3 linked regions of the Homo sapiens genome follow. The protein of the gene in region 3 interacts with the protein of the main gene of each other region in a pairwise test. Each region holds a gene or a part of one and is shown on either strand. Other genes may lie near its edges.

Region 1 (3,500 bases), on a different chromosome or scaffold from region 3:
GGTGTCTCCCTTGGAAGCAGAGCCCATGATCTCCCAGATCATTCCAGCTAAATTGTACCCTTCTGCTGCTCTTTCCACTTGAATGGGCAGTTTTGCTTTAACGATATAAAGAAACACATTATTTCTAAAATGCCACCAGTACCCATAACGAGGTAGCAAGACTTGGAGGTGGCCGCTGGTGCTTTCTGGTACTAATGGGCTTTTTAAAACACAACTCACAGCAAAACAGGGCTGGTCACCACCACCTGGGAGAGGCTTTATTTCTTCACCCAAGGCGGGAATCTCATGTGTCAGCCCAGGGGAGCCGTGGCTGGAGGTTTGATCCAGGACCTGGACAACTGCTCAGTGATGGCCGTGGATTGCGAAGACCGGCGCTACTGCTTCCAGATCACCACGCCCAATGGAAAATCGTATGTTTCACGCGTTTTATTTGGGAGGAGAATGAGTATAGTGGTTCCACCCGTTCCAAGGGCCTCCTAGTTCATTCCTATGTGCCAGCCCTCTGTGGGAGAGGCCCCAATCTGGGTATTGTTGACCTTTCAGGAGGATGATTTTCTGCTCTCTTTAAACAAGCCCGCATGACCCATAAGGGATCCAGCCTGCCTTATCCCATATGGAGATAAGTGAGGGTTTGTCTGTGGCTTTGGAGAAGAGATGACCTACGTGTGTGAGACAGCAACAGAAGTCGTGCTTGTTAGCATAGATTCTCAGAGAGAGAAGGCTGTGGCTACTCCTAGCCTGTTGTAAAGAAGCATTTGTGTTTGGATTGCAGCAGGGGAGAGTAACTATTTTGGTAAGGACGACCTTCCTGAGAAGGCCATTTTTCCAGCAGAAGCAGGAGTTGTGAGAAGTGTACTCCACTGCAGCAGCATCGTCGGCTGCCAGGCTGTTCCCACATGTCCTGTGTACCTGAGGGGCCCCAAAGAGGTGGTACTTTACCAATCCGCAGGCTGTGGCCATTCACAGTAGATCCCATCCCAGTGGGATCCCCTCTCAGAGTGGTGGTTTTTAAACTGCTCCAAGGAGTTCAGGGTCCCATGGAGGGGCTTCAGGGTCCCATGGAGGGGCTTCAGGGTTCACCTGCCTGGGGAGAGGAGTGGCCCTGCCCGTCATCAGAGCCGCTCTTCTCACACTGCATTCTATTAAGATTTGACCTGAACAGCAGGGGTAGGGGTGGGGACGGCATTGGGATGATGTCTCTCCTCCCAGCTTGGCAGAGCAGCTTTAGACCTCATCCTTCCTGCTTTGGTGATGGGAAATGACCTGGGAATGGAGATTCCTGGATGCTCATCATGGTCCTTTGCAGTTACCTCCTCTGGGCCTCACTTTCCTCAGATATAAAATAGGGATAAGATCTATGTTACTCCATCTGCCACAGATGAGAGGAACAAGGGAACTGGCAGATGTGGGGTCTCTTTAAAAAGTTAAAGCCTCGGCTGGGTACAGTGGCTCACGCCTATAATCCCAGCACTTTGGGAGGCCGAGGCAGGTGGATCCCCTGAGGTTGGGAGTTTGAGATCAGCATGACCAACATGGAGAAACCCCGTCTCTACTGGAAATACAAAATTGGCCGGGCACGTTAGTGGTGGCGCATGCCTGTAATCCCAGCTACTCAGGAGGCTGAGGCAGGAGAATCGCTTGAACCTGGGAGGCGGAGGTTGTGGTGAGCCGAGATCACACCATTGCACTCCAGCCTGGTGCAACAAGAGCAAAACTCCATCAAAAAAAAAAAAAAAAAAAAAAAAAAAAGAGTTAACGCCTCCACAAAGGTAGGGCAGTATTACTGTTACCTTATTCCCGGGCCTCCATACGCAGCAGACTTTTCAGTTCTGGGAAAGGAGTGAATGGGCTGCCAAGTCCTTCTTTGGGCATGGTTTGAGGAGTGGCTGGGCTTGGAGTCCTGGTCATCTTGGATCATTAGAGGAGGTCAACAGGTGGATCTCACTGTACAAACACAGATTTGGGCTAGAAGATCCGAGTCCCGCCTTCTCATTTCATAGATGAACATGCTGAGGCCCAGGGAAACGGCCATGTTTGTCCAAGATCACATAGTGAATCAGGGCAGAGCCAGACCTACAAGCCCATTTTCTTTTTTCTTTTTCTTTTTTTTTTTTTTGTTTGAGATAGGGCCTTGCCCTATCACCCAGGCTGGAGTGCAGTGGCACAGTCACCACTCACTGCAGCCTCAGCCTCCTGGGCTCGATCGATCCTCCCACTTCAGCCTCTCTAGTAGCTAGGACTACAGGCACACGCCACCACGCCCAGCTAATTTTTGTATTTTTTGTAGAGAGGGGGTTTCACCATGTTGCCCAGGCTGGTCTCGAACTCCTGGGCTCAAGCCATCCTCCTGCCTCACCTTCCCAAAATGCTGGGACTGCAGGCATGAGCCACTGCACCTGGCCCTGGAACCCCATTTTCTTTCCCTCTCATCATGCTGCCTTCATGGCACTTTTCCTCCCACACCCCAGCTAAGTTCAGTTTATGTAGAGAAATTCCCAGTCACTGAGATCAGGGAAGCACTTAATTACTTAGACACTTTTGTTTCAGGGGAATAATCCTCCAGGCTGAGAGCAGAAAGGAAAATGAAGAGGTAAAAATTTTGTTTGTCATATTTCTTTCCTAACGTGGTGGGTGACTTTGGGATTCAGTGTTCTTTTTTAATGTCCTCTACAGTGGATATGTGCAATAAACAACATCTCCAGACAGATCTACCTGACCGACAACCCTGAGGTAATTATCAGCCACCGGCATCTCAGCCCTTTTCTCAACCTGGAAGGTAAGCGTCCACCTCCTGGGACTGAGTGTGTCTTCCTGTGGATTTTTAGGCAGTCGCGATCAAGTTGAATCAGACCGCTCTGCAAGCAGTGACTCCCATTACAAGTTTTGGAAAAAAACAAGAAAGCTCATGCCCCAGGTAACTAAAGGACAAAGAAAAACTAGCTTTTGTGGAGCCAAATTATTGATTAGGAATACGAAATGAGTTGTTGCTTAATCCACACAAACCAAGGCATGTTTTTCAGCCTGTTTAACAGAAGCAGTAACGATGGCTGGGAAAGGTTAAATACCTGCCTGTGTTCACACCACATTGTGAGTGGTAGAGCCAGGATTCAAGCCTGTCTGATGTCAGCATCCCTGTCCTTTCCACTGGACCATGCTGCTGCAGTCCAAGCAAACAGGACGTGCATGGAGGGTCCTCCTAGTCAGGAGTTCTCCCCACATTTTCTATCAGTGTCAACAAAGTAAGGGAACGAAAGCAAAAATGTTTTTAAAAAATAAGGAAAAAAAAATCGCCTTTTATGTATCCCATGTTAATGTCCACGCCTTATCTGAACATACAGTGATAGTTTTATATGTACATTTATTTTGTATTTGCACATACTTTTTTTTTTTTTAACTATTTCTACATTTTTCAGAATTGTTCCTTTTAGTAACTACACCCTATTCCATCATTTATTTTTTTACTTACTTATTTTTTAATTTTTTCGAGACGGAGTCTCACT
Region 2 (3,500 bases), on a different chromosome or scaffold from region 3:
TGTAATCCCAGCACTTTGGGAGATTGAGGTGGATGGATCACCTGAGGTCAGGAGTTCGAGACCAGCCTGGCCAACATGGTGAAACCCTGTCTCTACTAAAAATACAAAAAAATTAGCCGGGTGTGGTGGCGGGCGCCAGTAATCCCTGCTAATCTAGAGGCTGAGACAGGAGAATCACTTGAACCCAGGCGGTGGAGGTTGCAGTGAGCGAAGATTAAGCCACTGCACTCCAGCCTGGGTGACAGAGTAAGACTCTGTCTCAAAAAAAAAAAAAAAAAAAAAAGAAAAAATATGATTTATACTCAGGCATAAGCTCAAGAGATAATACATGCAAAGTGCTTAACACAATTCAGAGCAGGTAGCAAGTGCTCAGCAAATATAGGCTATTGCTGAAGTGGCAGAGATGGCACTTGAGCTGTGGAATTGTTTTTTTAAAAATATTTTTATTTTTTACAAAAAATTAGCTGGGCGCAGTGATGGGCGCCTGTAGTCCCAGCTACTCAGGAGGCTGAGGCAGGAGAATGGCGTGAACCTGGGAGGCAGAGCTTGCGGTGAGCTGAGATTGTGCCACTGCACTCCAGCCTGGGTGACAGTGCAAGACTCCGTCTCAAAAAAAAAAAAAATAATTTATTTTTTAGAGATAGGGTCTCACTATGTTGCCCAGGCTAGACTCAAACTCCTGGGCTGAAGTGATCCGCCTGCCTCAGCCTCTTGAACAGCTGGAACTACAGGTGTGCACCACAGAGCCCCATTTGAGCTGTGGTTTTTTGTTTTGTTTTGTTTCTGAGACAGAGTCTCACTCTGTCGCCCAGGCTGGAGTGCAGTGGCACAATCTTGGCTCAGTGCAAGCTCCGCCTCCCGGGTTCCAGTGATTCTCCTGCCTCAGCCTCCTGAGTAGCTGGGACTACAGGTGCGTGCCACCACACCCAGCTAATTTTTGTATTTTTAGTAGAGACGGGGTTTCACCGTGTTGGTCAGGCTGGTCTCGAACTCCTAACCTCAGGTGATCCATCCACCTCGGCCTCCCAAAATGCTGGAATTACAGGCGTGAGCCACTGCACCCTGCTTGAGCTGTGGTTTTTAATGTAATTTCTCACCTGTTTTCTCTACTGTGACATGGACGCCTTCAAAGGCAGAAAGAGTCTTGACTCCCCTGTGTGATTCTCTGCGATTCCAGTGTCTGGCTGGGGCTAGGAACCGAGCAAACTTTGGTGAACATTTGCTGAATGAGTAAGCAAGCCCTGCCAATAACTGGATATACACAGTCACTTCTGCAAAGCTTAATGACTCGTCGTTAATGAGGTGTGCCAGTAGTAGTGTGCTGGGAAACATCTCTGTAAAAAACAAAGTCTTTAATGACTGAAAAAACCAAAGACACTTGTTTGTAGCCTTTCTTCCCTCCTTCCTTCCTTCTTTTCCCTTCTTTTCCCTTTCCTTCCCTCCTTCCTTTCTTTTCTTTTCTCTCCCTCTCCTCTCTTTTTCTCTTTCCCTTTTCTCCACCACCCAGGAGACGGAGGTTGTGGTGAGCCAAGATCCCGCCACTGCACTCCAGCCTGGACAAGAAGAGCAAAACTCCGTCTTAATATACATACATACATATATATATACGTGTGTGTGTGTGTATATATATGTATACATACATATATGTATACATGTGTATATATATACGTATACATACATATATACGCGTATATACGTATACATACATATATATGCGTATATACGTATACATACATATATACGCATATATATACGTATACATACATATATATACGTATACATACACACATATATACACATATGTATACATATATATACACATATGTATATACACACACACACACACACACACACACATATATATATATATATATATATATATATATATATATATATATATATATTAGCCAGGCGTAGTGGCACACGCCTGTAATCCCAGCTACTTGGGAGGCTGAGGCAGGAGAATCACTTGAACCCGGGAGGCGGAGGTTGCAGTGAGCCGAGATCACGCCACTGCACTCCAGCCTGGATGACAAAAGCGAGACTCCATCTCAAAAAAAGAAAAGAAAGAAAAAAGTATCAATTTACTTACTTGTCATATTGTATAATTATATCTAAATGGAAGTGTTACATAGTTATTTTAAGAAATGGAAATAATGTACAAATATAGAATCAAAAGTAAAGTCCCACTTTTCTCCCTCTTCCGCCTAAATCTCTCCCAGCATTGACAATGCATAACCATTTGCCGAGCGTTCTTCCCCGGACTGCATCCGTTTAGTCTACTGAGAGGCAGCTCAGCGTTCCCAAGGAGACAGATGTCTAGCTTTGCTCTTTCTGTCTGTGTGATGCTGGAGAATCGATATGCCCCTGGGCCTCCATCTCCATCTGTAAAACAAGGGCATCAGGCAAGATCGGCAGTTCTCATGTTACTGTGCGTAAGAGTCTCTCGAGACACTTGTGGCCAATGGGGAATCCAAGACCCTCAACCCGTGATTCTGAATCAGCAGGTCTTAGGCAACAGGAATCTGCATTTTGATGTGGCTGGTTCTCGCGGCATGCCTAGGAAACACTGAGGGAGAACATCTCTGAGGCCTTTTTCAGCTGCAATTTTCAAGAATTACCTTTTTTATTTTTATTTATTTATTTTTTTGAGACGGAGTCTCACTCTGTCACCCAGGCCGGAGTGCAGTGGTGCGTTCTCGGCTCACTGCAACCTCCGCCTCCCGGGTTCAAGCGATTCTCCTGCCTCAGCCTCCCGAGTACCTGGGACTACAGGCACCCGCCACCACGCCCGGCTAATTTCGTATTTATAGTAGAGATGGGGTTTCACCATATTAGCCAGGATGGTCTCAATCTCCTGACCTCATGATCCACCCACCTCAGCCTCCCAAAATGTTGGGATTACAGGCGTGAGCCACCGCGCTGGCCTGGATTACCTTTAAAAAAAAAAAATGTGGCCACACCTATAATCCCAGCACTTTGGGAGGCTGAGGCAGGCAGATCACTTGAGCCCAGAAGTTTGAGACTGGTCTAGGCAACATGGCAAAACCCCTTCTCTACAAAATTGACCAGGCACAGTGGTGCATGCCTGCAGACCCAGCTACCTGGGAGGCTGAGATGGGAGGATCACTTAAGCCCAGGAGGTGAAGGCTGCAGTGAGCCAAGATCATGCCACACTACTCCAGCCTGAGCAACAGAGCAAGACCCTCTCTCAAAAAAAAAAAAAAATTGCCAACCAGCTGCAGTGGCTCATGCCTGTAATCCCAGCATGTTGGAGGCTGAGGCACGTGAATCACTTGAGACTAGGAATTTGACAACAGCCTGGCCAACATGGTGAAACCCTGTCTCTACTAAAAATACAAAAATTAGCTGGTCGTGGTTGTACATGCCTGTAATCCCAGCTACTCCGGAGGCTGAGGCAGGAGAATCACTTGAACCCTGGAGGCAGAGGTTGCAGTGAGCCAACATCACACCAGCCTGGACGACACAGTGAGACTCTG
Region 3 (3,500 bases):
AAAATCATCGTGTGAGCAAGGTTGTTTCCTTCCGGAGGCTCCAGGGGAGAATCTGTTTCTTTTGCTTTTCCAGCTTCTAGAGGCTGCCTGCCTGCCTTGGCTTATGACCCCTCCTGCCATCTTTAAAACCAGCAGCTTTGTCTGGGTGCAGTGGCTCATGCCTGTAATCCCAGCACTTTGGGAAGCTGAGGCAGGAGGATCTCTTTAGCCCAGGAGTTGGAGACCAGCCTGGGCAACAAACTGAGACTGTGTCTCTACAAAGAATAGACAAAAATTAGCCAGGCATGGTGGTGCATGCCTGTAGTCCCAGCTACCTGGGAGGCTGAGGTGGGAGGATCGCGTGAGCCTGGGGAAGTGGAGGCTGCAGTGAGCTGAGATCATGCCACTGCACTCCAGCCTGGGTGACAGAATGAGATCCTGTCTCAAAAAAAAAAAAAAAAAAAAAACACAACAAACAAACAAACAAAACCCCCAAAACCAGCTTCTTGCTTCTGTTGTCACATCTCTTACCTCTGACTTTGATCCTCCTGCTCCCTTTTATAGGACCTTTGTGATTACATTGGGACCACCTGTATAATCCAAGACAATCTCCCCATGCCAAAATTATGCATTTAATCACATCTGCAAAGTCCCTTCTACAACATATTCACAGTTTCCGGGGATTCGAATGTGGATGTTTCTGGGGGGTCGCCCACTGATAACCAGTATTATAAGTTTCTTGTAAATCCTTCCAGAGATATTTTATCTATAAATAAATAAATGCAAGTCCATAGCCTTCCCCTACCCACTTTTTATGCAAATGGCATTATTCCATATCGGTGCTCAGAGTTTTCCTCTTTTTCTTTTTTCTTTTCCGTCTTCTTTTTCTTTTCTTTTGAAAGCTACACAGAACTTATTCTATTATATGGAAATACCCTAATTTATTTCACCTTTTCCCTGTTGGAAGACTTTTAGGCTCCTTCCAATGCTTTGCTTTATAATCCTTTGTGTTATAATGCTGCAATGAATAACCTTGTTTGTTGGATGATATTCAATTTAAAATCTCATTTTTCAGGACAGGCATAGTGGTTCATGTCTGAAATCCCGGCCCTTTGGGAGGCCAAGACAGAAGGATCACTTGAGCCCAGGTGTTCAAGACCAGCCCTGGCAACATATCGAGACCTGGTCTTTTCAAAAAAATTTGAAAATTAGTGGGGTATGGCTTGGTGGCCTGCACTTATTTGGTCTCAGCTGCTCGGGAGGCTGAGGTGGGAGGATTACTTGAGCACAGGAGGTGGAGGCTGCAGTGATCCATGATCACACTCCTCACTGCACTCCAGCCTGGGCAACAGAGTGAGAACCCATCTCAAAATAAAATAAAATAAAATAAATAATAAAATAATCTTGTTTTTCAGAAATTGGGGGTGCCATTTAAGACATTTTGAAACCTCACAGAACTTTTTTGGGGAACTTGTTGCCTTGGAGATTAGCCTGCCCTGTCCTGCCCCCATGACCTGTACTTGGTCTTTCTCCCTCCTGGCTTCCTTAGTTAAGCCTTGTGTGGACTTGCGAGCCCATGTCCATCACTCTCTGCCTTCAATTCTAGGTGCTGTGGTGTGAATACGCTTGAGTGGAGGCCGCATGCTTCCCAGGAGGGTGTGTATTTTCAGCGTTGTCTCTCATGATAGAATGAAAGGCTCTGGAGGGAATCACAGGCTGCCACAAACAGGCAAGGGGAAAAATCTTCCACAGACGTGTTTCAGGGACAACAGGCTTCCCAATCCTAGCCCATGCTGGCCCATAACTGGATCAGGCTGACTCTCCTTCCCCCACACCGCTGGTGTAGACAGGGACAAGAAAGAGAAGTCAGAGACACAGAGAAGCTGTGATTTGCTTGAGGTCACCAAAGTATTTAATGGCAGAGTTCAGACCTGACCTGAGGGGCAAGAAAAGACAACCCCCTCAAATCCATGGGGAGCAGAGACTATCTGGATCAGATCTCAGATTGCCTGGGGCTTTCACGGTGCCAGGTGTGTACACTGAGCTAGGATGGGTTTCCCAGGGTGCTGTGTGGTCACATAACTCAACAATACAGACCAGAAAGCAGTGACCAGTAGGCTGAATTTGGCTAGTGGGTGTTTTCTGTTTGGCCTACACAGTGTTTACTTTAACTTGTTATTATAGGAAATTCAAACATGCAGAGAGAATTGTACCATCAACAACACACACCCATCACTCTGCTCCAACAATGATCAACTCAGGCCTATCTTGCTTCATCCTGTACCCTCCCTCGCTTGCTTCTCTTCCCACCTTCAGATATGCGGAAGCAAATCCAGAGATTTCATTCCATTGTAAATATTTCATTGTGTATCTCTACAATGTGGGAATTTGGGGAGTTTCATTTGAGACAGGGTCTCGCTTTGTTGCCCAGGCTGGAGTGCAGTGGTGCAATCGTGGCTCACTACAGCCTCGACCTCCCAGGCTCAAGTGATCCTCCCACCTCAGCCTCCCAAGTAACTGGGGTTAAAGGTGTGCACCACCACATCTGGCCAATTTTTTTATTTTTTGTAGAGATGGGGGTCCCACTATGTTGCCCAGGCTGGCCTAAAACTCCTGGGCTCAAGTGATTGTTTTACCTCAGCCTCCCAAAATGCTGGGATTATAGATGTGAGCCACTGTGCCCAGTCAGGAACTTTTACATAATCCTTTTTGACAAAAGATTTCCCCCAAGAAATTAGAAAGTTTTACAAAAAAAAAAAAAAAAAAAAATTCAGGTTTCTGTCTCATCTTAAAAATTTGGAAGTTCTGCCAATACTAAGCCCAGATGGTAATCATTGGTTAGTGCTGAGAAGATGTTGACTTTTTAGATGAGGCGTGTGACGTCTACTTTGCCACAGTCCCCACCACTCCCTACCTGGCCATCTGACTCATACACATCACCTGCCTGGCTTCTTTAGGCATTTAATTTGTGTAGGAAATTGACCTAAAGGAGATATTAGAGAAGACATTAAAAACTTGAAGAATGTGAAAATCAGCCATGAGATAGAACTGTGCTTTAATGCAGGTTATAGAACCACACCGGATATGAGGCATTTCGGAATAAACTTTGAAGATTGGAAGTACCAGTTTGTGAATTTTGCTCAGAGAGACCAAGGTGGGGGTGGGTGACAGTGGTGAAGCGTCTCCTCTGTGCCAGTCTCTTCTACCACAGGCTTTTTCTCACAAAATCATCAATCATATGCAGTAGGAGAAACACCTTCCTATTTTACAGATGAGGAAACTGAGGCAAAGAGAGGTGAAATAGGCTTCCCAAGGCCACTCAGGTCAGGAGCAGCAGAGTTAGGATTCAGACCTGGAGTCCGCCTGACTCCAAAACGATGCATGCCTCACCATGGCCCATAGCTCCTTTAAAGAGGCGCGGAAGAGAGAATTTGACAAAGTGCTTGCCCACGGGGCCTGGGATGGGTGGGGAAACTACGCTGGGGCTCGGGGCTGCGGAGGGCATCTGGGAAGAGGCTCTG

What was found.
Region 1: the proteins of LGALS9B (region 3) and APPL2 interact in a two-hybrid assay, tested with the Homo sapiens proteins (one large-scale study listed by IntAct).
Region 2: the proteins of LGALS9B (region 3) and NLRP12 interact in a two-hybrid assay, tested with the Homo sapiens proteins (one large-scale study listed by IntAct).

The regions. Positions count from the first base shown.
Region 1 is NC_000012.12:105,194,675-105,198,174, reverse strand, and holds part of APPL2 (DCC-interacting protein 13-beta), read left to right. Parts: intron 1-221; coding exon 222-410; intron 411-2,547; coding exon 2,548-2,590; intron 2,591-2,648; coding exon of another isoform or gene 2,649-2,673; coding exon 2,674-2,730; intron 2,731-2,825; coding exon 2,826-2,914; intron 2,915-3,500. UniProt on the Homo sapiens protein: Multifunctional adapter protein that binds to various membrane receptors, nuclear factors and signaling proteins to regulate many processes, such as cell proliferation, immune response, endosomal trafficking and cell metabolism.
Region 2 is NC_000019.10:53,817,815-53,821,314, reverse strand, and holds part of NLRP12 (NACHT, LRR and PYD domains-containing protein 12), read left to right. Parts: intron 1-2,222; exon of another isoform or gene 2,223-2,431; intron 2,432-3,500. UniProt on the Homo sapiens protein: Plays an essential role as an potent mitigator of inflammation. Primarily expressed in dendritic cells and macrophages, inhibits both canonical and non-canonical NF-kappa-B and ERK activation pathways.
Region 3 is NC_000017.11:20,461,040-20,464,539, reverse strand, and holds part of LGALS9B (galectin-9B), read left to right. Parts: intron 1-3,500.